4 separate regions of the Homo sapiens genome follow, and regions 2, 3 and 4 are each linked to region 1. Evidence: fine-mapped expression QTL. A gene starts in region 1. Each other region holds a variant in brackets. All regions are shown on one strand. Distances are from middle to middle. Region 1 holds the start of PPP1R3G (protein phosphatase 1 regulatory subunit 3G). Region 2 overlaps LYRM4-AS1 (LYRM4 antisense RNA 1). Region 3 overlaps LYRM4 (LYR motif containing 4). Region 4 holds the start of LOC124901251 (a long non-coding RNA gene).

Evidence for each region. PIP is the estimated chance that this variant, and not a neighbour inherited with it, causes the effect. A credible set is the group of variants that fine-mapping cannot tell apart.
Region 2: its variant is the best candidate, but not a certain one, in a credible set for the expression of PPP1R3G in whole blood (TwinsUK, PIP 0.60).
Region 3: its variant is the best candidate, but not a certain one, in a credible set for the expression of PPP1R3G in left ventricle (GTEx, PIP 0.50).
Region 4: its variant is the best candidate, but not a certain one, in a credible set for the expression of PPP1R3G in atrial appendage (GTEx, PIP 0.79).

The regions. Positions count from the first base shown.
Region 1 is chr6:5,080,935-5,088,722 of GRCh38, reverse strand. It overlaps PPP1R3G (protein phosphatase 1 regulatory subunit 3G), which reads right to left and starts at 3,382. Exons shown (of 1, transcript NM_001145115.3): 1 at 1-3,382. The coding sequence starts at 3,237. The coding sequence ends at 2,161. The region is part of intron 3 of LYRM4-AS1 (LYRM4 antisense RNA 1); the gene reads right to left. It also overlaps a transcript of LYRM4 not described here. RefSeq lists silencers at 2,631-2,860, 2,891-2,940, 3,081-3,180, 3,431-3,610, 4,021-4,300 and 1 more and an enhancer at 2,411-3,100.
Region 2 is chr6:5,059,718-5,067,505 of GRCh38, reverse strand. All of the region lies in intron 2 of LYRM4-AS1 (LYRM4 antisense RNA 1), which reads right to left. It also overlaps a transcript of LYRM4 not described here and the pseudogene TFB2MP1. Among named protein-coding and RNA genes, the nearest start is that of PPP1R3G, 22 kb to the left of the region's middle. RefSeq lists an enhancer at 3,664-4,165. The variant A/T (reference allele first, on the strand shown) is at 3,847.
Region 3 is chr6:5,103,376-5,111,163 of GRCh38, reverse strand. It overlaps LYRM4 (LYR motif containing 4), which reads left to right. Exons shown (of 3, transcript NM_020408.6): 3 at 1,673-2,745. The coding sequence ends at 1,741. All of the region lies in intron 3 of LYRM4-AS1 (LYRM4 antisense RNA 1), which reads right to left. Among named protein-coding and RNA genes, the nearest start is that of PPP1R3G, 22 kb to the right of the region's middle. The variant C/A (reference allele first, on the strand shown) is at 2,913.
Region 4 is chr6:5,858,490-5,866,277 of GRCh38, reverse strand. LOC124901251 (a long non-coding RNA gene) reads right to left here and starts at 3,311. Exons shown (of 2, transcript XR_007059425.1): 1 at 2,907-3,311. The variant G/T (reference allele first, on the strand shown) is at 3,139.

The DNA.
Region 1 (7,788 bases):
AGCTCACTAAAGTCTAAATGCTTTATTAACTATAATTGTCAGCATATTGTGTTTAAAAAACACTACTTCCCTAGAGCAGGGGTTGGCCAGCCTTTTGTAAAAGGGCCAGATAGTAAATATTTTACACTTTGCCATCTGGTCTCTGCTGTGTCTACTCCACTCTGCTGCGGTAGCATGGAAGCAGCACAGAGAAGACAGAAATGAGTGTGCACGGCTGTGTTCCAGTAAAACCTGATTTGTGAACACTGAAATATATATTTTATATAATTCTCACGTGCCACCAAATAGTACTTTCTTTTGAATTTTTTTCAACAATTTAAAAATGTAAGGCCAGGTGAGGTGGCTCACGCCTATAATCCTAGCACTTTGGGAGGCCAAGGCGGGTGGATCACCTGAGGTCAGGAGTTCAAGACTAGCCTGGCCAACATGGTGAAACCCTGTCTCTACCAAAAATACAAAAATTAGCCAGGTGTGGTGGCAGATGCCTGTACTCCCAACTACTCTGGAGGCTGAGGCAGGAGAATCGCTTGAACCTGGGAGGCGGAGGTTGCAATGAGCCAAGATCGCACATTGCACTCCAGCCTGGGCGACAAGAGTGAAACTCCGTCTCGAAAAATAATAATAAGAAAATTAAATTAAAAATAAAAATGTAAAAACTATTCTTAGGTCACAGGCCCTACAAGAATAAGCTGTGTGCCAAATTTGGCCCATGGGCCAAATGTACGTATGCCCAGCCCTGTTCTATCAAGCAACAGTGAAACTGTCCCTCCTTAGAGACTACCATCCCTAAAACGACTGACTGTACTCGCCATGTGCTGGAAAATGGGAAGACTTAAAAAAAGGGAAATCACTGAGGCAGAGTCAAGGGGCGACAGACCTTACTCGGGATGCCCTCCTGCCCACCCATGCACAGAGGGCCACATCATCCTGGCATCCACAGCCAGCACAGCGACCAAGGCCGTCCATACCCCACCCAACGGGCCTGCAGAGGTGGCCATCTGCGTCTGCGCAGCACTGACTCGCTGGGCATGCCTCCTCTTCCATCAAGTCACCACTCCCCACTGTGGCTCTGAGAGGAACAGAAAGCCACTTTCCCATCCCCCATCCCCTGCGCTGGCAGTCCAGCGACTAAAAGGGCCCAGCTTCTCTGACTGCTAATGGCCCGGCAAGTCTCCTAACAGTGTGCTCTGCCTACACAAAGGGCGCCGGGGCGTGCGTGCCCGGCTCTCGCAGATCACAGCCAGGGCCTGCCCGAGGACTGGCATTTCAATTCACCAAACGTCTTAATTCGGAGGGGGACGGAACACTTTCTACAGAACATTTTAAAGCACATGGGAAGTTTGGGCCCTTTCGCAGTAGAGAGGAAGGAACGAAGGGGAGGAATTTGTAGGCTGTTGTTTAAGGATTGTTAAAGTGCGCACATCATCAGCTGACAAAGATCGGCCGACTGCCAATGCCTCCCCAAACTCACGAAAGCCAAAATTCAGAGTACAGCGTAAAAGGGGGTGCGAGTGGCCTTTACTTTTATAAAGGACATTTGTACACAATGTCGCACAATAAACAACGTCAAGTCTGGGCACACATTACCCACATCTCAGTCAAAAGAAAAGGGTGGCCTGGCCCAGCCCCGAAGGGTTTTCTCTGAGAAATAGGTTGGGGTGTAAAGGTCCCACGCGTGCACCCACAGTCCGTGGCACCTTCCTCTGGTGCACCGTGGCAGGACGCTTTGTTCTTTCCCTAGGGGTCTCCAGCAAACTGCAAGGGCTACAATATGATATTTAGAGTTAAAAACCAATCCCAAGGCCTTAGAACCATGCCCGGGAGTTGGGAGCCTTTTTCTTGGAGGCAGCTGCTCCGGGCCTTGGAAGTTTCTTCCTATTCTGACGCAGGCTGGGAATTCTAGAGGCCTTGTAGGAAGGTCAAACGGACGAGAAGACTGAGGTCAGAGGCTTTCGGAGCATTGCCCGGGCTCTCTAAGCTCGCTCACTTGTCTGCGGGGGTGCGAGTCGACGGTTCAAAGTCTCCCTCCTTTCCCTCCACGCGCCCCTCACGCCAGACTCGCCACGCTCAGCAAAGCGTCCCAGCAAGTTCCTTGAGGCGGCAGCCCGAGCTCCACGTGCTAATCAACCCCGCCCCACGGCTCTTCGAAACTCTCCAGGCTCAGAGCGCGTCCGCAGGGCGCGCGTAGCGCAGCGTGTAGTTGGCGCCCGCGTTGTTGTCCCAGTACTCGCCCTGCGCGCAGCGGTAGCAGACAGCGAAGTGGACCGCGACGCCGCGCTCGTCGGCGTCCTCTTCGTCCTCAGGCTGCAGGCCCGGGGGCAGGCACAGCGAGAAGTGGAAGCACTCGGCGCCTGGCTCTTTCTTGGCATCCCCGGACCCTGGCTCGGAGGCCCCAGACGGTGCCTCTGGCTGCTGTGGCTCCAGCGGCTCGGGCTGCAGCTCAGCCGGCACGTCCAGGAAGGAGCGCCACTCGGTAAAGGTGTAGCGCACGGTCACGGCCCTGGGCCCAGGGCAGCTGAGCACCCGGCCGGAGCCCTTCACCTCAGCGCCCGAGGCCGTCGAGCACTGCACGCGCTCCAGGCACACGCGCTGCCGCTGCAGACGCTCGGCCGCGGCGCTCGGCCCCGGGAGCTGGAAGAGCGGCCGGAGCCGGGAAGGCGGCGCTGAAAGGGGCGCGGCCACTGCCGCCGCGGCCAGCAGCCCCCCGAGCTGCTCCAGGTCCTCGGCACGCATAGGGAAGCTTCGGAGGCGCGAGAGCACGGCGGGCGGCACCTGCGGCTCCTCCGCCTCGCTGAAGTGCTTCACGCTGGCCAGGCTTAGCCCCAGCGTGTCCGCGAACTGCACCCGCTTCTTGCACTTGGCGCAGCAGCCGCCCGGGCCGAGCTGTGCGTCCTCCGCCCCCTCGCCGCCCAGTGCCACCGCCTGTTGCTGCTGCTGCTGCAGGAACTTGGCCGCCTGCAAGATGGGGTCGGCGGGCAAGGAAAAGGAGCGCGCGCGGCAGCGGCGGCGGCATTCCAGCAGCTCCTCCTGCTCCTGGGGGGCGGCCTCTTCCTTCGGGGACAGGGGCCTATCCCCTAGCTGAGCGTCAGGACTCGGGGTCTCCGAAGCGCCACCGCCGTCGCCGCCACCCTGCACACAGGGGACCACCGGGGCGGGCAGCTCCTCGGCCGGCGGGGCCTCTCGGAAGGGCGCTGGTCCCGGCGCCTCCAAACTTAGCCGCGCCCCTATGGGCTCCATGACGCCGTTCGCCCCTGGACTTGCTCGGGCCGAACCGGGCCCCTCTGGAGACTTAACTAACTCCTCGGGCCGTGGAAGGAGCGCAGGGCTGCAGTTCAGGCTCGCCCTCCCCGAGGCGAGTCGCCCCAGGCTCGACAAGACAACGTAGTTCCACTTTGGAGCCTCCGGCTTTTAGCTGCGGCTGCCCAGGGCGAAGTGGGAGGAGGATGCGGGCCTGGGGCCGGCTCCGGGGCCACGCCGCCTCCCGGTTGAACCTGCCCGCGACGGGGGAGGGCCGGGGGCGGGGAGGCGCGGCCGCTGGGACACCTGGAAGCCGTGTTCCCGAGTGCTCCGGTGGAATGCGGGGGGCGACTTTCTGTCGTTCGCGGGCTCCCTGCAGCCCTCACCCGCACCCCCGGCGGGGCTCGCGTCTGTTCCGCTTCTTGAGTGCCTCGAAGTGGGGGTGCAGAGCTCGCGCTCAACCTTCAGAGACCCCCACGTGCACAAAGTCTTCCTGCCCATGAACTTGGCCTGACGGCTCTGCCCCCAGAGGGTCACTGAGCGCTCTCCTCTTGGCTGCCTCACGGGCTGGGGAGTCCCCGGTGCAGCGCGCAACTGGGGAAATCTTGCCTACGCAGAGGCTGGAAGGAGGCCCATTCCGCGCCGCCGGAGAGCGGGGAGCGCATCCCTTCCCTTCTGCTCCTGCTTTCCCCAAACTTCAGGGCGCCCCGGGTTCCAATCCCACTCGGAAGCCTGACTCGGTCAGGCGCGCTCCGCTCTGCTCTTCCGAAAGCCGGGAGGCAGGAGCCGCCGCCCCCATCTGCCCAGTGGCGGCGCGGGGTGGGCTGCGGCCAGACTGGGGCGGGGACCGTGTGGGGACGCGCCGGGGAGCGGCCATGGCCCGCAGCCGAGAGCGGCCGGAGGCCATTCGCGCCAGGCCCGGGAGCACGTCCCGCCCCTCCCCCTGTCCCGCCCGACGCGCCCGCGAGTCCGCGCCCCGGGATCCCGCAGGGAGGGCGGAGAGGGGGCCCCGTGGGGCCGGCGCCCACGCGGCACGCACCACCTCCCACCGCAACCGGACGCCAGCGCCCCAAGCACCCTCCCCGCCCACCGGGAGTGGGGGCGTGGCCCGCGCCGGACTGCGCTGTCACCGCCCTGCTGCTCCGGCCTTGCCAGGGGCCAAGGCCCGAACCTGAGGCCGGGGAGGGGTGGGGAAGCGCGTCGTGGTACCTAGGGATTGGGGGAACGTCTAAAAGTGGTGTTTTTCTTGTTTTGGTTTTAAGGCCACCCTGAGGGCCATCTAAGTCAGTGATTCTACTTCAGCATGCACGGACATCACTCGGGGGCCCGTTGTCACATCACAGGGCCCCACTCCCAGAGTTTCCTTCTTTCTAACTTTTTCGAGATAGGGGTCTTGCTATGCTGCCCAGGTTGGTCTCAAATTCCCGGCCTCAAGCAGTCCTCCCGCCTCAGCCTCTAAGGTAGCTGGGATTACAGGCGCCCCCCACTGCTCCCAGCTCCCTAGCGTTTGTGACTCAGTGGGCTTGGGCTGGGGCCTGGAAGTATTTCTAACAAGGGGATGCTGATGCTGGGCTCTGGGGACCGTATTTAAACCTATGTGGATGTGTATTCAGTTACTTATATAGAAAGTTGGGGATTCTAGAAACAGAACCACTAATTAAGAAACGTAATTAATTGGGGCTTCATAACTAAAACATGTCATGGTTTGGCAGAACTGAAAGGGGCCAGGGTTTTAGCCATGTTGGCAGAGGGCAGGCAAAAGAGATGGTGGGTGAGGAGCGTGTTAAGAGCTTACATTGATTGACTGAGCACCTACAGGATGTCCTGTCCATGAAATAGGAATCACATCATTCCTGCCTACATATAGGACACAACACTGCAGAAAGATTTCTCATCGCCAAGGCCCCACAGGGTGGCTTTCATGGGATTTGAAGCCAGGCAGCTTAGAGGAAACATTTCCCCCATCACTACTAAGCCTGGGCTGGGAGTGATGTCCTGTAAAGGGGGCCCTGCCGGTCCCCTTGCTGGACTCTTGCTGGTCATTTTATGCCCAGTGTGGAATTCCATGACTGTGTCTTGACTTGGGCATGGCATCTCCAAGAGGCCCCAGGCGCACACGGCCTGTCTTCCTGCAGCAACTCTGATTTCGGGAAGGACATTGCTTTTACATTTAAATACACATTGCTACATTATGGAGTTAAATACAAAATTCACAAGCTATTTTAAAGATAAAATAAGACTTCAAAGAGATTTTGAGGTGGTGGCGACCCTTTGGGCTACAACCCTCACGGGGGCACATGCTCACTCCAGGACAGAGAAGGAGGTGAGGGAGGTGCTGGGGCATAGAATTTAAGGAGGCATCACTCTCAGGGTCATGCAGGTGCACTGGTCCCAGCCCCGGCCCACCCTCCTCTGTGCGGTGGAAATGCTAGAGGTCCCACCCCCGGGGAGCTCTCAGTGCGTGGGAGGGGCCAACACTATACAAACTCAGCCCCTGTGGCCAATGCTGAGAAGGTGGTATCTGACCTGGTCAGGAGGCCTGTGAGGAAGGTGAGGTGGAAGGAACAGCTCGGACTGCAAGGAAGAACGTGCTGGGCCACGCAGAGGCTCTGTTGGAGGGAGTGTCAGGGGGCTGGACTGGAAGAAGGCCAGGGTGGCCTGAGGGCAGAGAGCACAGAGGAACTGGCGGAGCTGAGGATGGGAGGGGACAGCCACTCAACCTTGAGCAATGAGAGGCCGTCAAAAGGTTTTGAGTCATGAATGTGACTAACCAGATTTAAATTTTGAAAAGATCATTCTGGATACAGGACAAAGAGCAAATTACTGGGGACAGAAACAATGTGAGTGAGCCCCATAGGAGGCTGTTGCCATTGTTGTGGTGAAGGGTGATCATACTTAAGAGATGATGGTTGTGGGGTGGACAAATCTGAGCGCTATTTAGGAGTGAAAATCAATGTAGCACACTTATGGCCCCAAGTGGGGGTAGGTGCAGGGAGGCAGGGGGAGGGAGGTGCCTTAGGATTTGGACTTGAGCTGTTGGGTAGACAGTAGCAGTCACTGGGGCAGGGACCCCCAGAAGAGGAATAGAGGGAGGGCAAGATCATGAATTCTGTTTTGACCAGGTTGAGCTTCTCTGGTTCTTACCAACACCAAGTGGTGTCTAACACCAGTTCTCCAACAGGGTGTCCAATAATTCAATTCTGACATTATCTACCTGGAGCTAGTGTCTGTCTCCACAGCTTAGAGGCTCAGTCCCACAAGACGGCCCCCACTTCAGAAGCCACTTGCAAACGGGGTGCCCAGGCTGCCTGCATTTCTGCCCCTCCAGCTACAAATTAGTGTTCCCACAACCCATCCCCAGCTTCCATATGACTCACGGAACTCAGGAAAACACTTTGCTTGAGTTCACCAGTTTATTATAAAGAAGAAAACTCAGGAACTGGCAAAGGGAAGAGATAGAAGACAGAGTGTGCGATGGGCATGGGACTTCCAGGGCCCCTCTGGGTGCACCAGCCTCCAGGGTCTCCACATGCTCCCCACCCAGAAGCCCCACCAGCCTTGCTCAGTCTGCAGCCCCTGCCCCTTTCTGGAGGTCAGTGGGTGGAGTTAAAAGTTCCAGTCCTCTAATCACTTGGTGTTTCTGGTACCCAGCCCATCTTGAGGCTGTCTAGAGAGCCCACTCTCAGTCATCTCATTAGCATAAATTCAGGTGTGATCAAAAGGGACTCTTTATAAAAAACAATTATGTTACAACAAAATAACACTAACAATGTAAGTAATAACAAATGTTCTATCAGAAAATTCCAAGAGTTTTAGCCTTTCTATTTCAGGAACCAAGGACAAAGACCAAATGTCTATTTTTATTATACTACAGGAGGTCTAAAGCTGAGAAGGGAAGAGGGCCCAGGACTGAGCTTTGAGCAGCCCTGATGTTCCCAGGTCAGGAGGAGGAGGATGAGCCTGCAACAGGGATAGAGAATGAACAGCCAGAAGGGTTGGAGGGAATGGAAGAGGGTTGTTCTCAGAAGCCAAGGAAGGACTTCAGAAGCAGAAACGGTGTGCACCCACCTTGCAGCCCATGGGGACTTCGGGTCCTCCCCCTTGCCTCCTGAAAGGTGCAGAAACAATGGGTGATCTCTGGCTCCCACACCACTCCTCCACTCTGGCACAATGGATGGTGGGGATGGACTGCTTTTCCAAGCTCACTGTCCCCTAAGCTTTCTCCCGGAGACAGGGCCCAGGTCTTCTCTACTCTGAGATGCAAAGCCCTGAAGTTAATAGTTAAATGATGTTAACATGTAAACTAACTTCTTGAAATTTAGACTGTGCAGTCTACCCCCCCCCCCCCCCCGCCCAAGTGTGTTCAGTCCTACTTCAAACATCATGTGCCTCCACTGCTAAAATATTTACTCCGGGCATTCAGAGGCTCCAAGCTTTACCGTTTGTTCGTGTTACCTATTGCTGCATAACAAGCCACCCCAAACAGGGCTGTTTTTAAAAATAATAACAGTATTTATTTTCTTTATTAATCTGTAGATTGGGCAGGGCTCT
Region 2 (7,788 bases), 21 kb after region 1:
GCCATGTTGTGAGAACACTCAAGCAGCCCTTCAGAGCCAACCAGCATCAATTTGCCAGCCATGTGAGTTAACCTCCTTGGAAGCGGATTTAAGACTCTGATGGCTGTAGCCCTGGCTGACATACTCACTGCAACCTCATGAGAAACTGAGCCAGAACCACCCAAATAAAACATTCCCCAATTCCCTAACCCTCAAAAGCTGCACAATTGTAAATGTTAACTGTTGCTAACGACATACTAAGTTTGAGGTCATCTGTTACACAGCAATAGATAACTAATGTTTTCTGTGTACATAAATATCTATAAATGCTTAGGAAGGATCTAGAAAGATGCACATGGGGAATGTGGTGAACTTGGAAGAGGTGGAGTAGTAGCAAAGAAATTAATACTTTTGTCTGTATCACTTTAATTTTTCCGCCAAGTGCATATATGTATGTTTCAATGATATAATTAAAAATAAATTTAGGGGTTCACTGCAGTAGCAACCCCCGGTAATCCTTGGAGCGGGCCTGAGAGACAAAGACATGTGGATCCCAGTGGCCGGATTTCCTCCTCGGCTGAGGCTCTCCGCCTTGGGGGGCGCTGGTCGCTTTTGCATTTTAGGGTCTGGAGCGGCGATGCGAAAGCACTTGCCGGCGAGGAACCGCCGTGGCCTGTCTGACTCCTCTCCGCAGCTGTGGCCGGATCCGGATTTCAGGAACTCACCAAGGAGGGTGTTAAACTCCATCTTAGACTTTAAGCGTTACGTAACCAATCGGAGATTGGCTGAGACCCTGGCGCAAATCGTATGGAGAAAACAAAATAGACCTCCACACCTATTGCTGCAGTGCAGTCCAGGTCCTGGAATCCTGACTCAGGCATTACTTGAAATTGGTGCCAAAGTGGTTGCCCTTGAAAGTGACAAAACTTTTATTCCACATTTGGAGTCCTTAGGAAAAAATCTGGATGGAAAACTACAAGTGATTCACTGTGACTTCTTTAAAATAGATCCTAGAAGTGGTGGAGTAATAAAACCACCCGCTATGGCTTCTCAAGGGCTCTTTCAGAATTTGGGAATAGAAGCAGTTCCTTGGACAGCAGGCAGCCCTTTAAAAGTAACTAGAATGTTCTCAAGTAGAGGTGAAAAAAGGGCCACTTTGGAAACCTGCATATGACGTATTCCTGTACTTCTAGATATAAATTTGGACGAATAGAACTAAATATGTTTATTGGTAAAAAAGAATTCCAGAAACTAACGGCAGATCCCCGAAATCCAGACTTGTATCATGTATGAAGTGTTATCTGGCAAGTAGCTTGTGAGATTAAGGTTCTGCACATGGAGGCTTGGTCGTCATTTGATGTATACACCCAAAATGGGCGGCTGGAAAACCCAAAGTGTAGGGAATTATTGGAGCTATTACAACAAAATCTGTATCTTACTCGAATGACTCCTCATGGAAATTTATTTACCGAGAACTTAACACCTATTAACTGTAATATATTTTTTCACATGTGAAAGCACTGTTTTGGGAGGTGCAGTGCCAATCTAATAGACCACTTAAGTTCACTGACTCCACTTGGTGCAATGGATATATTGATGCAAATAGGAAAAAAGGAAGAAGAGAAAATAACTAACATGTACCCTCAAGACTTCAAAAAACTTTTTGAAACTATAGTGTTCCAAAGATTGTGCTTATAAATGGCTATATGATGAAACCCTGGTAAATATGTAGCAACTAGACTGTCGTTTTTGGTGGAGCAGTTTATTTATTTGGAAACCATGACATGAAAACCAAATTTGAAAGCTCACATCCTTTCAGCAGAAGATAACTGTTCTTGTTTTGCACATGACACGTAGATCATTTCTCCTGAAGTTGATATCATTGGCATATTGGATGAAACAGTGGCTGCTATTTTATTCACAATTGAATAAAGTGAAAACTTCAATTAATTGTGGATTTGATCAGATTGAATTCCTTTTGTTTCAGATTCCTATTTAAATATTTCACTTTCACTGTTGCTGATTTTTGCATCTTCTTGAGGAGCAAGAGTCTGTACATTATTAAGCTTAGAAAGTAAACAAAACTGATTTACTGATTTGTTTTGCATTTCAGTTTGTTGAAATGTATTGTCAAGTACTACAGAATGAAATTGTTTAAATTTTAATATGATTTAAACTTTTTTAGAAATTAAAATATTTTAAATAAAAATAAATATATAAATGTAAAGCCAAAGCTTGGAAGCAACGAAGATGTCCTTCAGTAATGAATGCATAAGTAAACTGTAGTATATCTAGACAATGGAATATTATTCAGCAGTAAAAAGAAACACACTGTCAAGCCACAAAAAGACATGGAGAACACTGAAGTGCATATGACTTAAGTGAAAGAAGCCTGGAAAGGCTATATACTGTATGATTCTAACTATGACATTCTGGATAAGGCAAAACTTGGAGTTAGGAAGAGCAGTGGTTGCCATGGTTTAGGGTAGAGAGGGATGAGTAGGCAGAGCACAGAGGTTTTAGGGCAGTGAAACTATTCTGTATGACACTGTAATGGTGGATACGTAACATTATTAAAACCCGTAGGATGTGCAACACCGAGACTAAGCCTTGATGTAAACTATGGACTTTAGTTTAAAATAACGTATCCAGCTAGAAGAGCACATTTTAATGTTCCCAACACAAAGAAACGATGAATGTTTTAGGTGATGGACATGCTTAATTCCCCTGATTTGATCACTACACTTTGTGTACATGAATTGAAATACCACACTGTACCCCATAAATATGTACAATTGTGTTTCAACTAAAAATAATAATAAGGCTAGCCACAATGGTTCGCCCTTGTAGTCCTAGCACTTTGGGAGGCTGAGGCGAGAGGATTGCCTTGAGGCCAAGAGTTCAAGACCAATCTGACCAATATAGTGAGACCCTCGTCTCTATAAAAAAAAATTTTAAGCAAAAAGTTAATTGAATTTAAAAAATATATGATACAAAAGAATGTATCAATGTCTCATCAGCTGTAACAAATACATTACATTCATATTCATTGTTAACAGAGCAAACAGTGAGCTTGGGTTGCTGAGGGGTGTATGGGAAAGCTGTACCTTCCACTCAATTTCTCTGTAAACCTAAAACTGCTCTAAAAATAAAACATATTAATTATTTTTAAAATAAAATAAAATTTAAAAGATGACTAAAGACAAATAGACAAACATAGATATCACGTCTCGTTTGCCGTTCAGGGCTTGCTGGGATAGAACTTTTCCGGGCTAGGTGGGAAGGCTGATTCATTTGTCACCCTTATTTCTGCTCCCACCTTTTTTTTTCAGCCAGCAGATGGGATAAAATTCCAAAAACCTTGACTTTGGAATAAAGAACATTCTAAAACCTGGGTCCCTTTCAAGCGTGTATTGTTAGAAACAGGCTCCCAAAAGCCAAACACAAGTTGAGAATGGGCTCCCAGGAAGTGCTAAGAGGCTCTGGGGACCCAACAGATGTGGAAGAACTCAGCCGTGAACCTCACTGCATGGCTTTAGGCCACAAGACAGGCAGCTCCCACCGGAGCCACTGCCCCTGGCCTGGCAAGTCAACCCCTTCGCCCAGAGGCCTAGTGTGCCCAGACAGTTCCTGGGACCAGCGCATGCCACTTTCTGGGGCAGGTTCCCGACATGCTGGGGTGAGCAGAGAGATGAACAGGACTGTCCAGGGTCTGGGGAACCGGGGCAGCCTGAAGAGGGGCTGGGTGGGACCAGGCTGGGCAGGGATGAAGGCTGAGTCTGCTCCCGGGAGATGGCTCCCCAACTGTGGTCCACGGTGGCACCCACATGTGATCTGTTGGGGGAGGAAGCCACACACACCAGGAGC[A/T]GTGCCTCTCACTCACTGAACAAACATCACTCCAGGCCAAGCTCAGTGCTGGGGAGACATAGGTGAACAAGCCTGGGTTCCAGGGATCGGGAGCTTCTTCCAGTGGGGTTCAGATTGTGTCAGAATAAACAACCACACAAGGGTGTAAGTAGCGTCCCATGGCGACAACTGATGTGAAAAAACCAAAGCAAGGGAAGGAGACCAGGAGGATAGGCCTGGGGGAGGGGCCAGGTAGGATGGGGGTCGGGAAAGGCTTGTGGGGCTGGAAATGGGCGGTTGGCTAACGTGCCTTCCAGGGACTCCAATCTCCCCAGAAGAGCACCAGGTCCTCCCTGAGGGCTACAGTGCATCCGAAAAGCCCAGGGTCAGCCAGGTCTCGGTGCACAGAATGCTTCATGAGGACCAAGGCTTTAGTCGGTGGATGAAGTGGCCGTCCCGTCTGTGCCAGTTTCAGTGCCTTCCTAAAAAAGAAAAATCAAAGCTTGCTGCCCAGTTTGCCCCATTCAAAAAAAATCCTATTCAGGAAGACTTTGTATTGAGGGAAAATGTCCACAGGTGACTCCTCTTGTGCCTGTTGAGAAGGAGGTGCAGAGATGGAAATGACTCATGGGAAGCTGCTTTGTGAACGAGCAGACCCAGTGGTTCGATAATGGATGCCCACACCACCCTCCACCACGGTCCACTTGACCACAGGATAGTCAGCGGCACATGAGTCCTTCCAAGGGCCCTTGCCAGTGTGACCTCCTCCTTCCCTTCCCCTCCTGGCTTGCGGCAGGCTTTGATTTGCTCCAAATCCAATGGTTGCATTCATCAGAGATCACAGATTCTAAAGTGTGCAGCCTCTCCCATGAGGTTCTAATTCCAGAAGTCACCTGACAGAGCCAGAAATGCATGGACCACTTGCACAGAGAAGTAAATTATGTCCTGAGAGTCGCCTGGATCCTGGGGAGGTGGAAAACTGTCCTCAAACAGGATGTGTTATGTGTTTTCAGTAGAAGAGCCAGCTGGCAGCTCACCTGCAGCTCTGAGCAAGGGAGGCTTCTAATCCTTCCTGCCATGCTGCCTCGGTGATACCATCCCTTTGGCCACATTTGTCTTAGGCCTTTATTAAAAGGGAAGGGTGAATTAAATAAAACAATGATGTGGAAGAAAAATGCAGATAGGTCATGAAATTCAGGGGAAATGATATTATTAAGAAATGAAAATAAGGCCAGACATGGTGGCTCTCAGCACTTTGGGAGGCTGAGGTGGGAGGATCACTTGATGCCAGGAGTTCGAGACCAGCCTGGGCAACACAGTGAACCCTGTCTCTAAACATATATATATATGTTAATATATGTTATAAATATATTAATTAATATGTATTATAAATATTATCAACATATAAATATATAATTAATATATATTAATTAGCTGGGGTGTTGGTGTGCACATGTAGTCCTAGCTACTTGGGAGACTGAAATGGTAGGATCACTTGAGCCTAGGAGTTTGAGGCTGCAGTGAGCTATTATCGCACCACTGCACACTAGCCTGGGCAACAGAGCGAGACCCTATCTCAAAAAAAAAAAAAAAAAAAAAGAAGAAGGAAGGGGAAGAAGAAATAAAGAAATGAAAATAATAGTATTTTAAGCCAGGAGAATAGAAGGAAGAAAATGGCAAAGTATCAGTATTAAACACCCCGCTATTGTGGAGGTGGTACGAAAGTACCAGAGTTAATTATAAAAAAGTTGAGCAATGCACACATATAAAAGACCTCCATTGCTAGAGAATTACAAAGGTGATAACATTCTCAATTATGGCATAAATATTCCATCTCTGGGTCTTGCGTCTTATTCATGGTGTTCATTTCTTCCAGTGCTTTGTAATTCATTGTGTGTGAACTGATTTTTGTGAGTTTTCTATGGGACTCCCGTGAGCTCTGGGTGGCTGCGGAATAGAACAGTACAAGACTTCCTGTTGCCAGAGTCTCTGGGGATTTCAATGGTCATGGATCGGTTTTGTGTTCGTTTTTCAGGTTTTAGTTCTTGCACCATGCAGGTAGTTAGATTCAGATCCCAACCCCATAGCCCCTAGCCACCTTCAGCGTTTGCTATTGAACACACATTTGATCTGCGTAAGCCTGGTAAGTGAAAAGCTTGGGAGGCAACTAATATTTCTGCATTTCTCTCATTATTTATGACATAGATAGGATTAACCTTTTTTATTTTACAATTGTTCACTATCTTGTATAAAATAAGGGCAAAATGCAATAAGATATTCAAACAATTGTGAAATCATCGTTTTGCTATTGTGAAACAAAGGTGGCAGTTCAGCCAAAACTGAACTATTGACTGACAGGCAGGCCTCTGCACGTGGTGTGACAGTTTGTGCATGAAAATAGACAACTTCTAGTAAATCAGGTTTGGGTTAAAAGAGACAAAAATCTAAAGCTGATAAATAAATTAAAATCAGAAAAATAGAAGAAATGAAGGATTAAAAATTAAACACTAAGAAGTTAAAAGTAAAATAATCCCTCACCAAAAAATACAATTAATTAACTGTCTTTTTAATTAATTAAGTGACCTGCATGGCCAGCCTCCTGTGTGAAGGACCTGAGAGGACTATAAACTGTTTCTGAGCCTCTCCTGTGTCCCCTCTTGAGGCTGCACCTGACTGGCTGTCCCCTAAATTTAAGAACACAGAACAGTATAGGATAAAGGTGGCATTCAAAATTGGTCGAGAAAATATGAATTATTTAATAAATACCACTGGTATAACTAGTTGGCTATGGGGTGGGCAGAATCTCTCTGAATTCTAATTCTCAAAATAAATTCCAGATAAATTGAAAAATATAGCTGGGCACGGTGGCTCACGCCTGTAATCCTAGCACTTTGGGAGGCTGACGCAGGTGGATCATCTGAGGTCAGGAGTTCGAGACCAGCCTGGGCAACACAGTGAAACTCCGTGTCTACTAAAAATACAAAAATTACCCAGGTGTGATGGCGCATGCCTGTAATCCCAGCTACTCAGGAGGCTGAGACATAAGAATAACTTGAACCCGAGAGGCAGACGTGTGAGCTGATTTTTGTGAGTTTTCTATGGGAGTGCTATGGAGATGGTACCACTGCATTCCAACCTGGGTGACACAGTGAGACTTTGTCTCAAAAAAAAAAAAATACAAAAATCGAAACTCAAGGGGACTATAAGAAAGTGTAGGCAACTAAAAAAAACCTTCACTGGGCAAGACCTGACTTAAGCAAGAAACAAAACCAAAAGGCCTACATGAATGTACCTGCAAAGCATAAACAGTAATGTACCTGCTTAAAAATCCAACATTTTTTCATGGCAAAAATTATAACAAACAAATCCAAAAGACAATCAACACACAGAGATCAATATTCCCACCATCTTTGAAAAAAAGGCTCACTCTTTGGAGGGCAATAAAATAATATCTATCAATGTTTTAAAAGAAATAGTTTTGACCTAAGAACTCTGCTTCTAGAACTTGATCCCACACTTTCGTGTGTACATATGTATTTCACTGAAGCACTGTTAGTAACAGGAAAAGACCAGAAACAATGTACATGCTCATTAAAGAGGGGACAAGTTCAATATATTATGGGACATCCAGATTTCATGTTGGAGGGGCCAAAGGAAAACTTCCCCTTTGCCTTCTGAATGCTGGCTGAAAATCAACTGACAAAAGATAGATTAAAGCCAGGTGTCATGTCTCATGCCTATAGTCCCAGCTACTCAAAAGACTGAGGCGGGAGGATCACTTGAGCCCAGGAGTTCAAGGCTGCAATGAGCTATGCTTACACCACTCTACTCCAGCCTGGGCAACAGAGCAAGACCCCTGTCTCTTAAAAAAAAAAAAAAGGCAGATTAACAGGAGAAGAGTCATATAAATTTATTAGCATGTGATTCTCCCACCATGCAATGGGGTACAGATGGTTAAATACC
Region 3 (7,788 bases), 22 kb before region 1:
GTTCATCTATCTGTTGAGGTTAATATATGAAAACAAAACCATGTACTATTCAGGGTGGAGGACAATGCCAATCCTCCCCTTCTCTGTAGTAGGGTATAGATGGCTTCAGCTCACCCAGCAGCTATTTCAGGTTGTCCAGAAGGGAAGGCCAGAAAGTCCCTGTGCTGCATTCATCGTGACTGTACCGTAGCCCCTGAGAAAACCAGTGCGGCTCCTCACAGCCCTCAAGATGATTTCCGACCTTGCCACCTAAAGTGTGGCCCGTGGACCAGCAGCATCAGCATTACCTGCAGGTTGCGAGAAACGCAGCACCCCAGACCCTCCCCATCCACTTGCGTCCAAAGTCTTCTCTATATTAATGAGAGGAAAGGACGACTGAAGACACAGTAGCAAAGCTCATCACTGTGACTTGTTAGGAGCACTCATTCTCTACACCCCCTTCCCATAACTCCTACCTACCTCTTTTGGTTTTTAATTAGGACATTCACTTGCATTTAAAAATACCTGCAAGATCCCCCCATCCCCCATATCTCCACTGTCTACTTCTCGTTCTTCTTAGATGACGTGCTGCTCTCGCCTCTTCCTTCGCTTTCTCTTGCACCGCAACACTTAGTTATTATCCATGCCACGGACCTTCAAGATACCTCTGTGCAAGGGCAGACTGAAGACCGAGCAAATGGCATGGAAAACAGGACACCTCAGATGGACGGCGCGGCGGTCCTTGGTGACAGAGCACTGCTCTTTAACACATGCTGTAGTAATGACATGATCGCCTTCTGTCCGGGGCCTTCACTTCGAAATAGAGCACTAAGATCGGGGAGGAAAACCATGAGGATGTTGACCCCTGGCTGCTCTGTTTGCTTAAACAGCAGTTACTCACCCCGAATTACCCATAGATAGTGACCAACTGGTCTGAAATCCAGATAGAGTTGCTAATGATCAGCCCTTCCTTCACCCATTCCACTTGTTCTTAAAAATGTATCACTCAGGAAATGCTTTACAGAAAAACTGTGGCAAGACCCTTTGTTGCAGAGGAAAGACCTGCTCTAGCCCCAGAGGATGGCTCCAGCATCCACCTGGGACAGTGGAAACATTGGGCATTAAGACACTTAATAAAAAGGACACTTTAAAAAGAAGGGGGCAGGAAAGATAGAAGGCAGGAGGTGCAGGCACTCAGACAACTGCCCTCGACCCCACCCGGGATGGGCCACGGACAGGTGTCTGCATTGCCCTGAATGCAGCGCTTTTCCTACCCCAGCATAGACGGCGCCCATTTCTGCACTGTTCTAAAACCCCTTCCCTATGCGAGAATCAGTTCTAAGGGAAGGAAGCCCTCTTAGGAGAGGAGGTACTGGGCACACATCTGACAGCTCTGCCACCAGCAGGCAGGCGTCACCCAGCTCAGCACAGCCCCGAGTCCCAGGCTGCAGCCTCCTGTGCTGTTTCAGAGGGGAGGAATGGGTGTGTGGATCTCTGTAACTTCTCACAGTGAGGGAAACGGGGGTTGGATGGTGCTCTAGTGGCCGGCTTTGCCCCGCAGTGCAGTTGCCGGAAGGGAGCAGCCCTGGGATGGCCGACGTTTGTATTAGAAATGTTAGGAAATGTTCCTTCTGGCCTTTCCCAGGGGCTAGAGGGCCACGGTTCCTGACCTGTGTCCTTTCTTTGCCTTCAGGTCCACATTGGCCAACTGTATTCAACTGACAAGCTGATCATTGAGAATCGAGACATGCCCAGGACCTAGCAAGCCGGGGACCAGCCACCAGTGGCGGCCAGGGACCACCTTCAGCATCCACTCTCTGTTTGAGATGGGGGCTCCCAAAACCAGCTTACAATAGCCTTTTGCGCTGCCTGTCCTGTGGGAGCTGATAAACCAAGTCACATTTGCATTCTGTTGCAGGCTTAGTGAAAAAGGACTGCTGTCTTTCCTTGGTTCAAGTGTTAGAATGGAGAGCTGGAGTTCGTTCAGAATAGTGCTGTGTGTTACCACGTCTCCCCTGCACCCCATTCCTACCTTGTAGCTCATGACCATTGTGTATAGCATTTCTACACTTTGTTTCTTGGTCCTTGGCAATAAAAAGAATGATCTCCCTGAGCCTTTGACCCCAGATAAACCCCTCCCAATTAATGCATTTTCATTTCCTACTGATACAAGGCCTGGAGAGGGCTGTTGGGGGCCCTCAGGGAGGGTTCAACTCTGAGACGAGAACTGCCTTGGTGAAGGCAAGTTCAAGCACCACTTGAGACTGGGGGCAGCATGGAGTAGGGCAGGGCTACGGGGATACACGGTGCACCCTGCAACTTATACCTGAGCCCAGTACAACAAAGGTGACGGGTGTGTAGGTACACACCCAGAGATGGAGCACTGCAGATCAGCAACCTCAGCCCCACCTGGGAATTTGCTGGAAATGCAGGCTCAAGCCCCTCCCCACACCTGGTGAATGAGAGAGCCCCAGCCTGACCCAAGCCCAGGGCGACTCCCATACCCTGAAGCCTGGGGCATGCTGGGCAGCACCGGTGCCCAAATCTGGCTGGTGGACAGAAGCACCTGGAGAGTTGGAGAGCTTTTTAAAAAGACATCTCTCAGCACTTCCCTCTCTGCAGATTCTGACTCAGTAAGTGAGGGGTGAGGCACAGTCATTTTTCTCTATTCTGAAGCTCTCCCACTGTTTTCAATGTTTAACCAACTGGGGACCCCTGCTCTTTAAGTATATTACAGGTAATAAAGATATTGTTTGTATGCTTTTATTCTTGGAAACAGATTCATTCCAAACATAGAAAGAACATATTAAATAACTTGCTTGTCATCTGGGGAGTTTACGAGGGACCAGACCTGGCAGAGCGGTTTCTTGTTTCCCTTTGCATACAGTGCTCAGTGGATTTGGTATCTGTGGGTTAAGGTTTGGAACAGGCTC[C/A]TATAAATAGCACCGGTCCTGGAATAGCTGCAGCACTGTCACCCCCTCATTTTAACTCCGACGGTCATGGGAGTGAGTACGCACTGTCTGAGCCCGTGTTCTTCTCACCCTCATATGAGAACTCATGTCTTCCAGTCGCTTTTAGAGAGCATAGATTTGCTGCAATGATGCGTTCAAATAGATGTAACGTGTAGCCATTCTATTTGGCAGTACAACTTTTGATTTCAGGATAAAGTCTTTTTTTTTGAGATGGAGTCTCGCTCTGTCACCCAGGCTGGAGTGCAGCGGTGCGATCTTGGCTCACTGCAACCTCCACCTCCTGGGTTCAAGCCATTCTCCTGCCTCAGCCTCCCGAGTAGCTGGGATTACAGGGGCCTGCCACCACGCCCAGCTAATTTTTTGTATTTTTAATAGAGACGGGGTTTCACTATGTTGGCCAGGCTGGTCTTGAACTCCTCGGCCCCCCAAAGTGCTGGTATTACAGGCATGAACCACCACCCCCTGCCAATTTCAGGATAAAGTCCTGAGCATCTGTGAAAATAATGAAGCTCTTAGCAAGTCCCAGATCTCTTACCCTCTAACCAGTTCCTGCCTGGGAGCTGCAGTGTTAGAGCATATGCAAAGCCCTAATTGGGGGAGAGCTGTTCGGTGGACAGTGAACGGAGGTGATGTGGCAAGTATAATCACTCCCTTCAGCTGACTGTCACGGGGCAGAGCCGCCCAGCCCAGCCCTGTGTGTGGCTCTGGCTCAGGTTTTCCACCTTGCATCAGTGCAGTGGAGTTCGTGGTCACTCAGCAGTGAATGCATCCAACCACGCTACTAACGCACGGCACTGCTGATTTATACTTAATTTAAGCAACTGCTACTTGGAACCGAAGTCCAGATTTGAACCTCCGTGCTGAAGGCATCAAATTGCCGGCAAGATAACAGCTCCAGAGGAGACTTCTCCCACTCCCCCAGGTTTTACGCAATGAGGCAGTCCACCCAAACTTAACGTGGGCTGCAGGCTGTAACAGCAGGTTGCTTTTGTGTTCATTAAACTGCATGAATGGGTTTGAACATGCCCAAAGCCTTGCTAATGCAGACTTAATTTTGTAAAATTAACTATGCCTTTGGAATCTGCAGAAAGATACAAATCCGAATTCTGTGGCAGGAAACGCCACAAACAGGCCTTGGTCCTCCACCTTTCAGGTGTATATCTGGCAGGCAGAGCCTGGCACTGGGTACTCCCCAACTGAGATGACCCAATATTGATGCTAGAGCTTCGAATAAAGTGGCATTCCCATGGGGGTGACCCCTGGTGTTTCTCTAGGGAAGTATTCCACCTCCTTGACTATGCACCAACTGAGGGGAATGTGGGCAACTCCAACATCCATCATGGCCAGCCTCACAGAACTCTCTAGAACTTGTGCCTGCTTTGAAGATAGGATCCGGGCTGGGGTCTGGAGATCACTTTGCAGCACTAATATTGAGCAAATGAGAACTACTATCATTAGTTAACTTCCCAGGCAGAACTCATTGGCCGAGCAAGGCTATATCCTAGACTTTCAGAGACAGCTCTGGGCTGGGCTGGCTGTCATGACATAATAGCTGGGAGATCTTGCACGGCCAAGTACAGGGCTGTGTTGTTCTGATGGCTGTTGGAATCTGGATTTTGGAACTGAAAGAATTGGCTAGATTGCTTTAGGTATACTCCGTCCTGCTGCTAACTAAGTAGCAGTGACCTTTAACTCCCTTCATCCACAGCCTCTCCCGTTAATCTCAAGCCCCACCATACAACCCACCATCATCCAGGAGCAAAAGGGACAGGCAGAGGGTGAAGCCTACAAAGATGACAAACATCAGAGCTCACCTAGTCCAACCCTCAAATCTTCAGGTGTTAAAACAAAGAGCCTGAACATCTGCAGATCACGTACAGAGTCAGGGCCTTTCCCCTAAACCCCTTTCACTCATTCATTTATTCACTCAGTATTGACTAAGGCCACCTAGTGCCAGGTGCCAGGTGCCAGGGAGCAACCAGTGAACAAGACAGACGTACCTTCATAAAGCCTGTGTCTAGCAGGGAAATCTGAGAAGAAAATGACAAGTCTTATGAATGTTACAAAGAGGGAAATATGAGTGCTGCCAGAGCCGATGGGACGGGCCAGGGAAGGGCTCCCCAGGGGATATTTACACGTGCAAATTAATGATGAGGATTGGCTGTGTGAAGGTGGGGAGAGGAGCTCTCTAGGCAGGAGGAACAGCACATGCAAAGCCCTTAATTGGGGGAGAGGGTAGTTCCATGCAAAGAACTAAAGGGAGTCTGGGATGGTGGCAGCCAAGGAAGAGGGCTCTTTCCACATCGTGGACGGCCTTGGAGCCTCAGCCTAAGGATGGTGAGCAACTCGGGAGTTTTTAGGCAAGATGAGGTTTTTGTTTTGTTTTGTTTTGTTTTTTTGAGACAGAGTCTCGCTCTGTTGCCCAGGCTGGAGTGCAGTGGCATAATCTCAGCTCACTACAACCTCTGCCTCCCGGGTTCAAGCAATTCTCCTGCCTCAGCCTCCTGAGTAGCTGGGACTACAGGCGCACGCCACCATGCCCAGCTAAGTTTTATATTTTTTAGTAGACACAGGATTTCGCCATGTTGGCCAGGCTGCTCTTGAACTCCTGACCCCAGATGATCCGCCTGCCTCGGCCTCCCAAAGTGCTGGGATTACAGGCGTGAGCCACCGCCCCCGACCGAAGTTTGTATTTTTTAAAAGGTCACATTGTCTGCTTTTGAGGGGATACACTGGGAGAGATGCAGGGAGACCAGCTTTTCGGAGGAGTGGGGGATTGGGTGTGGCATTCCAGGCAAGCGATGGTGACTTCACCAAGAGGCAACAGCTGAACAGAAGCAGAGTCAGCATCACCCTGAGAACTGGCTGGGGTGGGCCGCCATTGAAGGAGGACAGGAAACCTGGAGCAGAGCTGCCCCAGCTGAGCACAGCCCGAGCTCCCCAGCCCACCTGCCGATGCGCGAGAAAGTCCACAGAGTCCCCTAGCCTGGTCTAGCTTAGGTCAGTCATATTCAGCCACCCCTCAGACATGTGCTAAATAATTAACTGTTACATTAGTCACTGAGTTTGGAGGTAGATTATTATGAAGTAACAGCAAACTAATACAGAGAGCATCTCTGTATTAATGTATTAATGTATTACTTTCTCAGGGCCACATAGCAAACCAAAGAGTAGGCAGACAAACGGCCAAAACTGCAGGTCTCCTGTATGGGGACATTTCCACAAATATCTTCAGAATACTGGTCACTCCCTTTAGAGAACAAGTCCTGGAGAAACAGTCGAAACAGTCATCACGTGTCCTACAGATGGAAGGGCTGGCCAACCAGAAAGAAAAGAAAAAGTCGAGTCAGCAGAACTTGGTGATTGATTGGATGAGGAGACCAGGCCTGAGGGCTGCAGGGAGTCTAGGAGGAGTCTCAGGAGCAGGGCCTGAGGAACTAAGAAGGGGCTCTGGCTGAGACCAGACAGGAGCAGCCACTGTCTGGAATTTTGTCCCCACTGCTGACTTCGAACAACCTCAACTTCAAACAGAAAGCCCAGACTCGATGAATTTATCTTTTCTTCAAAGTAGAGAAAGGGTAGCTCTTTTCTTCCCAGGAAATTGTTTATCCATTTAATAATTTTTAAAAATCACTGGAGTTGGGTGTGGTGGCTCATACCTGGTAATCTCAGCACTTTGAGAGGCCGAAGTGGGCAGATCACTTGAGCTCAGGAGTTCGAGACCAGCCTGGGCAACATAGTGAAACCCTGTCTATACAGAAAATACAAAAATTAGCTGGGTGTGGTGGCATGCAACTGTTGTCCTAGCTACTCTGGAGCCTGAGGTGGGAGGATCACTTGAGCCTGGAAGGCGGAGGTTGCAGTGAGCCATGATCGCACCACTGCACTCCAGCCTGGATGACAGAGTGATACCCTGTCTAAAAAAAAAAAAATAACTGGGATAAAACAACTCGAAAGACCCTTATAAAGATTTTACCCGTAACTCTGTAGAGCAAATAACTTCCTGCTTTAGGCAAAGCTCTTTGTGTGTAAGTTCGATTGGAAGAGGAGGGCTGGTGGGGGGAGATTCTCTACTTTGGTCATGAGATTAACATTAAAAGTTTGAGGAAGGTTGCTCTATATATTGGCTGCCTGTTTCTAAGACTGAAAATAAAAGCACAGTAAAATATCAACAAGTATACAGAAAATATACATTTGTAGAAAATTAGCTTTTTTTTTTTTTTTTGCTAAGTACTTCATATAAACTAGTATTTGCTTTCTAGATTAAAGAATATCTCCTCCAGGTGTGGTGGCTCACACCTGTAATCCCAGCACTTTGGGAAGCCGAGGTGGATGGACCACGATGTCAGGAGTTCAAGACCAGCCTGGCCAACATGGTGAAACCCCATCTCTCCTAAAGATACAAAAAAAATTAGCCAGGCGTGGCAGTGGGCGCCTGTAATCCCAGCTACTCAGGAGACTGAGGCAGAGAATTGCTTGAAGCCAGAGGCAGAGGTTGCAATGAGCCGGGATCACGCCACTGAACTCCAGCCTGGGTGACAGAGTGAGACTCTTGTCTCAAAAAAAAAAAAAAAAAAAAAAATATCTCAGATATTGAAGCGAACCTATAAATAACAGCAGAAGCTGAAGAAAAGATAACGGATCAAAAAGCAGAAGGAGAAAGCTTCCCTGTCCCCAAGGACCTGCCCACAGTCGTGGATGAGAAGTCCCTTGATAAGTAGGGTCTGAACCCACGTGATCAAATGTTAGCTCTGTGAACCTGTGCCAGTGGCTGTGTGTCAGTAGCCCAGGGTGATTCAGAAGCTCCATGAAGCAGCCATCTTTCCTGGATCTCTGG
Region 4 (7,788 bases), 780 kb before region 1:
GAGAAAGAAAAAGAGTATTGATTTAGTACCTATCCAGTGCCAGAAACTGTACTTGGCATTTTACATCCTCCTTCTAGCAATCAAATAAGATATAAATTATTATCCCATTTTACATACTATTCCATTTATCTATTGCTGAATAACAAACTTCTACAAAACTTAGTACCTTAAGACAACAATTGATTATTCTTATACCTCATCGTTTTGTGGGCTAGGAATGTGGACAGGATGGAGGAAGAATAACTTCTGTCTCTCCCATGGTGTCTGGAGCCTCCTCTGGAATGTCTTGGCTATTTAAGTAACCTTCTGTATTTCTCTGCCCAGCCTCTTCACCTGTGGGCTTCCTCACAACATGGCAGACTTAGGGTAGAAGTTCTTACTTAGTAACTCAGGGCTCCAGAAGAATGAGGCAGATGCTGTCACTCCTCTTAGGTCTAAGCCTGGAACCAGAGCAGCATCATTTCCTCTGTGCTCCAGTGGCTGGGGGTAGTCACAGGGCCAGCCCACATTCAAGATGAGGGAATAAAAACAACATCAAAATGGTTCGTGACCATTTTAAATTCATCACACAGATGAGGAAGTACAGGAAGGTGGGAAGTGGCAGAGCCAGGACTCGAGCTACATCTGACCAACTGTCATTTCCTTCCCCACTCTCATTACCCTCAGTAACACATCCGTGTGTGTGGGCTCAAGGGTCTCCTCTAAGATAACTTTAAACTGTGTGTTTTCATCCCCAGCCTTGCTGCTAAGCTCCAGGACTATCTCCAGTGGAAACTGTACATGTCCATTTGAATTTCCTCGAGCCAACTCAGACTTAGCAGGATGAGACAAGAGTTCAGAATTCATCACAGGTCCTATCTCCATCCCGATCTAGGCAAACCAGCAGCTCGCCAGTCACACTGGCTCAGAACCTCATGTTGACTTCTGTCCCTGCCCTCTCACTTTTTTCCTGTGTCCAGTCAGTCACCATTGCCAAGGCCTGTAAATTCGTAGGCACAACAGTCTTCAAGGCTGCTCAAAGATCAGTTCTGCCTACATCCCCTCCAGCCACCTACCATGCTCACCATCCCCAGCCACACTGCCTGCTGCTCCTCCAAAGCCTCTCCACGGACACCATCTCCCTAGAAAGACCATTCTATCAAACATTACTGATATTGTTATGTCTGTTTATTTCTTATTTATTGTCTGTTTCTCCTACTAGAGCAATGCTATTCAATAGAAATATAATTTGAGCCACATCTGTAATTTTACATTTTATGGTAGCCACATTTAAAAGGGCATAAAGAAACAGGTAAAATTAATTTTAAGAATTTATTTCACTTAATCGTGTATATTGGTCCATTTTCACGCTGCTATAAAGTTACTACCTGGACTGGGTAACTTATAAAGAAAAAAGATTTAATTGACTCACAGTTCTGCATGGCTGGGGAAGCCTCAGGAAACTTACAATCATGGCAGAAGGTGAAGGGGAAGCAAGGCACATCTTACATGGTGGCAGGCAATAGAGTGCAGGGGAAAATGCCACTTTTAAACCATCAGATCTCATGAGAACTCCCTCATTATCACGAGAATAGCATGGGGGAAACTGCCCCCATGATCCAATCACCTTCCATCGGTTCCCTCCCTCAACATGTGGGGATTACAATTCTAGATGAGATTTAGGTGGGGACAGAGAGCCAAACCATATCACCATGATATCCCGAATACTATTATTTCAACATGTAATCAATATGAAAAATCATTAATGAGATACTTCACATTTTTTGGTCTAAATTTTGAAATTGATGTGTATTTTGCCCTTTGTTTACCTCTCATTCAGACTGGCCACATTTCAAGGGCTTGGTAGCTACACGTGCTAGTGGCCGCCATCTCGGACAGCACAGCTCTAAAACAAAAGCTCTTTGAGGATGTGGACTTTGTTCTCTTTGTTCACCTCTCTCTTCAAGGTGCCCTGAACTTAAAAAATATTTTCTTACTGCATGCGTGCAGGAATGCAATGAATGAAATGCATCCCTTGCTTTTGATTCTCCCCCACCCCTTCCTCCTGACCTCACAGTGGCAGAAGCCTTCTACCTGTCAAGCATCTACAGGTGTGGCAAGGAACTGCTCCTTTCCAGCTTGAGATGCTCTTCCCACACCACCAGTTTCTGTCTTGAGCCTCTTTCCACCGGTGGGAGGACTCAGAGTAAGGCTTGTCTGGCGGCCCCAACCAATGGACACCTGCCTCTTCCCATTTCTTCCCACAGCATGAGCATGTGTGACTTCAGTCCTCTCTCCTCACCCCTGTCCTAACCTCCCACTTATTATTTCTACCCCTCACCCTTCATCCTGAGGTCCAGAGCAGAGTCCCTGAGAGCTTGAAGGTCTTTGGTGTACTGAGGTCGAAGAACGCTGACCTCTGACCTCTCACTTTTTGAATGAGAAAACCTAGGGTGAGAGGCCTGCCAGGTTTGAATCTGTGCCCAGCTTGATTCTGAGGCTCTTTGAGGGACCCCACCCTGCGTGTCTGTCCACTGTTTCTGGGACAACCTGGTTCCAGCTTGCAGCCTGGCTCTTAGCCTTGGCTGACAGTTCCAGTCTTTGCATCCCCAGATGTCACATCTTGGGGTGGCACAGAGCACTCTGCTGGCTTGGAGCTTCTCCCCAACTAACCTTTTTGACAGCTTCATTGAGATATAATTTACATACCATACAATTCACCCCACTAAAGTATATAATTCAATGGATTTTATTATATTTACAGTTATGTGCAACCATCTTCACAGTCAATTTTCATATCACCTCAAAAAGAAACCTTTTAGACCCATTCACCCATTGAGGGACATTTGAGTTTCTCCTGCCTTATGGCTATTATGAATAATGTCGCTGTGAATATTCACGTAAACCCCTCCACTGATTCTTCCTACCTCTTGCTGCCAGGTGACTTTTCAGCAAGCATTGGAAAGCAGGTCAGTCCACTGTTCCTAACATCTGCCATATTGGTCCTGGCACTGGAGGCTCTTCATCACAGGGGCCTTCTCTACTCCCCACACCTGGCTGCAGAGAGGCAGTGAAAGGTCGTGGTCAAGGTCAGGGTCTGAAAGCCAGGGCCTCACCTCCCAGCTGGTAATGAGCTCAGCCAGACAGAAGGACAGCCCA[G/T]GTTCAGGGTTTGGGAAGAATGGCAGTTACTCACTTTGGTTTACTATCAACATGGCAAGGACATGGGGGATGTGCTCCCCAGGCCTGCCCTCTGCTCCTCACAGAGACAGACCCCAGGCTTAGAGAGGCAGCCAACCAGGCTGAGTGAGCCATTGCCCGGTGAGAGGAGCAGGGCCCACCACCCCTCTCATACCATTTTGAGGCTGGGAAAGGGGCCGCAGCAGCTCTCAGGAGTTCACCGCCTTAGCACTGCAGTCACACCCTCTGTATTGTCTCTTACTACCTCAGCACGTACCACCACTGTGATTTTAGACAACTTATTTAACCTCTCTGTGCCTCAGTCTGCTCCCCTGCAAATGGGGATAATAATAGTACCAACCTCAGAGCATTCTTGAAAATGCATGCCTGAGTGCTTAAACCCCGCCGGAACAAGGAGAGCTCCATGTGTGTTAGCGATTCTTTCTTCCCAAATCAAACACTTTGTTGTAGTGAGATTTATCTCCTCCCCATGGTCCTCTCTTCACACCAGAGGTCTGGATTCTCTGCTTATCTAAGTTCTGGCTATTTGTATTAGTTTCCTATTGTCACTGCAACAAATTGTCACGAACGCCGTGTCTTAAAACAACATATGTTTTTTCTCTTAGGATTCTACAGGTCAGAAGTCCAAATGAGTCTCGCTGAGCTAAACTCCGAGTGCCAGCAGGGCCATGTTCCTTTCTAGGGGCTCTGGGGAAGAATCTGGTTTTTGGCTTTTTCCAGCTTCTCCCCTCCCACTCTCGCATTCTCCCTTCAACACGCTGGTTCACTTCTGTACAAAGTTGAGTGCAGTTCACCACAGACCCCTCTCCCTGTTAAATCAGCAATTGTTTTTACTGATTTAAATCTGTCCTGATCATTTTAATCAGTGTCCAGCTTTGTTTATCTTTGGCAATCCCCTTCGTCCATCCTCCAAGCCAGCAATGGCCTGCAGAATCCTTCTCCCATCATGTCAGCCTGCCTCTCTGAGTCTGTTGCCTTGTCTTCTCTGACCCTCCTGCCTGCCCCTTCTTCCACTTGTGAGGACCCTTGTGATGTCATTGGGCCCCCAGATAATCCAGGATTATCTTCCTATCTCAAAGTCAGCTGATTAGCAACCTTAAACCCACCTGCAACCTAATTCCTCCTTGCCAAATAACGTAAGATCTTCAGAGGTCTCGGAATCAGATGTGGACGTATTTGGGGGGCATTATATAATGCATGTCACACTATTCTCTTTTTCCCCAACATCACTGAGGTATAGTTGACAATTAAAAATTTTATATATTTAAGGCGTACAACTCAATGATTCAATATATGTATACATTGTGAACTGTCCACCACAATCAAGCAAATTAATGCGTTTATCACCTCACATCGTTATCATTTTTTGATGTGGTGAGAACACTTAAGAGCTGCCTTCTCAGCAAATTTCAAGTCTACAATACTGTTACTGTAGTCACATTGCTGTATGTAGTTGTCCAGACCTTATTTACCTTACATAACAGACCTCGCTCATACCCTTTGACCAACATCTTCCCATATCCCTCCCCTTCAGCCTCCAGTAACCACTATTCTACTCTCTGTTTCCATGATTTGACATTTTTGGATTTCAGGTTTATGTTGTCACAAATAACAGAATGTCCTTCTTTTTAAAGGCTGAATAATATTTCATTGCATGTGTATATACAACATTTTATCCATTCATCTGTCAATGGACATTTAGGTTATTTCTGTATCTTGGCTGTATCTTGGTGAATAATGCTGCAAAGAACAGATATATCTTTAAGATACTGATTTCATTTTCTTTGGATATAGACCTCACAATGGGATTGCTGATCACATGGTGGTTCTATTTTTCCTTTTTTGAGAAACTTCCCTATTGTTTTCCATGATGCCTGTACCAATTTACATTCCCATCGATCGTGGACAAGGGTTTTATTTGCTCCACATCCTCACCAACATTTGTTATCTCTTGTCATTCTGATAATAGCCATCCTAACAGGCGTGAAGTGACATCTCATAGTGGTTTTGATTATCACTTCCCTGATGGTTAGTGATGTTGAACATCTTTTCATATACCCGTTAGTCATTTGTATGTCTTCTTGGGAACAATGTCTACTCAACTCCTCTCTCTGCTTTTTAATCAAGTTTCGTTTTTTTCTGTTGAGTTGTATGAGTTGCTCATATATTGTGGATATTAACCCCTTATCAGATGTATGGCTTGCAAATATTTTCTCCCATTCTGTAGGTTGCTTTTTGTTGTTGTTGATTGTTTCTTTTGCTGTGCAGAAACTTTTAGTTTGATGTAGTCTCACTTGTTCCTTTGTGCTTTTGGTTTCATATCCAAACCATCATTGCCAAGACCAATGTCATGAAGCTTTTCACCTATGTTTTCTTCTGGGAGTTTTAGAGTTTCAGGGCTATGTTTCAGTCTCTTTGAGTTGATCTTTGTGTATGGTATAAAATAAAGATACAGTTTCGTTTTCTTGCATGGGGGTATCCAGTTTTCTCAACACCACTTATTGAAGAGACTGTCTTTTCCCCGTTGTGTATTCTTGGCACTTTTGTTAAAGACTTGTTGACCACACATGTGTGACTTATTTCTGGGCTTTCTGTTCTTTTCCGTTGTCCTATGTGTCTGTTTTTATGATAGTACATGTTATTTTGGTTAGTATAACTTTGTAATATATTTTGAAATCAGAGCCGGTAATGCCTCCAGCTTTGTTCTTTTTGCTCAAGATTGCTTTGGCTAGTCTGGGTCTTTTGTAGTTCCATATGATTTTTTTTTCTTTTTTTTGAGACAGAGTCTTGCTCTGTCACCCAGGCTGGAGTGCAGTGGTGCAATCTCAGCTCACAGTAACCTCTGCCTCCCAGGTTCAAGTGATTCTCCTGCCCCAGCCTCCCGAGTAGTTGCGATTACGGGCACCTGCCACCATGCCCAGCTAACTTTTGTCTTTTTAGTAGAGGTGGGGTTTTACCATGTTTGCCAGGCTGGTCTTGAACTCCTGACCTCAAGTGATCCACCCACCTTGGCCTCCCAAAATGCTGGAATTATAGGTGAGAGACACTGTACCTGGCCGCATATGAATTTTAGGGTAGATTTTTCTATTTCTGTAAAGGACATCATTGGGATTTTGATAGGGATTGCTTTGCATCTGTAAATCAGTTTGGGTAGTTTAGACATTTTAGCAATATTAATTATTTCAGTCAATATGGATATCTTTCCACTTATCAGTATCTTCTTTAACTTCCTTCATCATTGTTATAATTTTCAGTGTACAAGTGTTTCATTTCTTTGGTTAAATTTATTTTTAAGTATTCTCTTTTTTTGTTGCTATTGTGAATGGGATTATTTTCTTGATTTCCTTGTCAGATAGTTAACTGTTTGTGTATAGAAATGCCCTGATTTGCATATATTGGTTTTGTATCCTGCAACTTTACTGAATGTATTTATTAGCTCTAACAGTATTTGGTTGAGTCTTCAGGGGTTTCTATGTATATAACCATACCATTCTCAAATAGGGATAATTTTACTTCTTCCTTTCCAACTTGGATGTCTTTATTTTTCTTGTCTCATTGTTCTGGCTATGACTTCTAGCACTATGATGAATAGAAGTGGTGAGCATGGACATCCTTGCCTTGTGCCACATCTTAGAGGGAAAGCTTTCAGTTTTTCCCCATTGAGTTTGACATTAGCCGCTATCACACTATTTTTTAATGTTCAGCTCTGGTTCCCCTTTGTCACAGAATCTTCCCAAATGACCCAGACATCAGGACCTTTTTTCTGAATGTCCATAAAATTCATCCTCTGTAACCTTCATTTGACACATATTTTATGTCCTCCTGTATTGTTTGTAAGTGAAATGTGAATTCTGAAAAGGTGTGAACCACTTCTTGCCACCTGGGAGTAGACGGCATGAGCAGAGGAGAAAGGCAGGATGAGAAGCTATTTAATAAATGGCGCTGGGAAAACAGGCTAGCCATATGTAGAAAGCTGAAACTGGATCCCTTCCTTACACCTTATACAAAAATTAATTCAAGATGGTTTAAAGACTTAAATGTTAGACCTAAAACCATAAAAACCCTAGAAGAAAACCTAGGCAATACCATTCAGGGCACAGGCATGGGCAAGGACTTCATGTCTAAAACACCAAAAGCAATGGCAACAAAAGACAAAATTGACAAATGGGATCTAATTATACTAAAGAGCTTCTGCACAGCAAAAGAAACTACCATCAGAGTGAACAGGCAACCTACAGAATGGGAGACAATTTTTGCAATCTACTCATCTGATAAAGGGCTAATATCCAGAATCTACAAACAACTCAAACAAATTTACAAGAAAAAAACAAACAATCCCATCAAGAAGTGGGCAAAGGATATGAACAGACACTTCTCAAAAGAAGACATCTACGCAGCCAACAGACACATGAAAAAATGCTCATCATCACTGGCCATCAGAGAAATGCAAATCAAAACCACAATGAGATGCCATCTCACACCAGTTAGAATGGCAATCATTAAAAAGTCAGGAAACAACAGGTGCTGGAGAGGATGTGGAGAAATAGGAACACTTTTACACTGTTGGTGGGACTGTAAACTGGTTCAACCATTGTGGAAGACAGAGTGGCG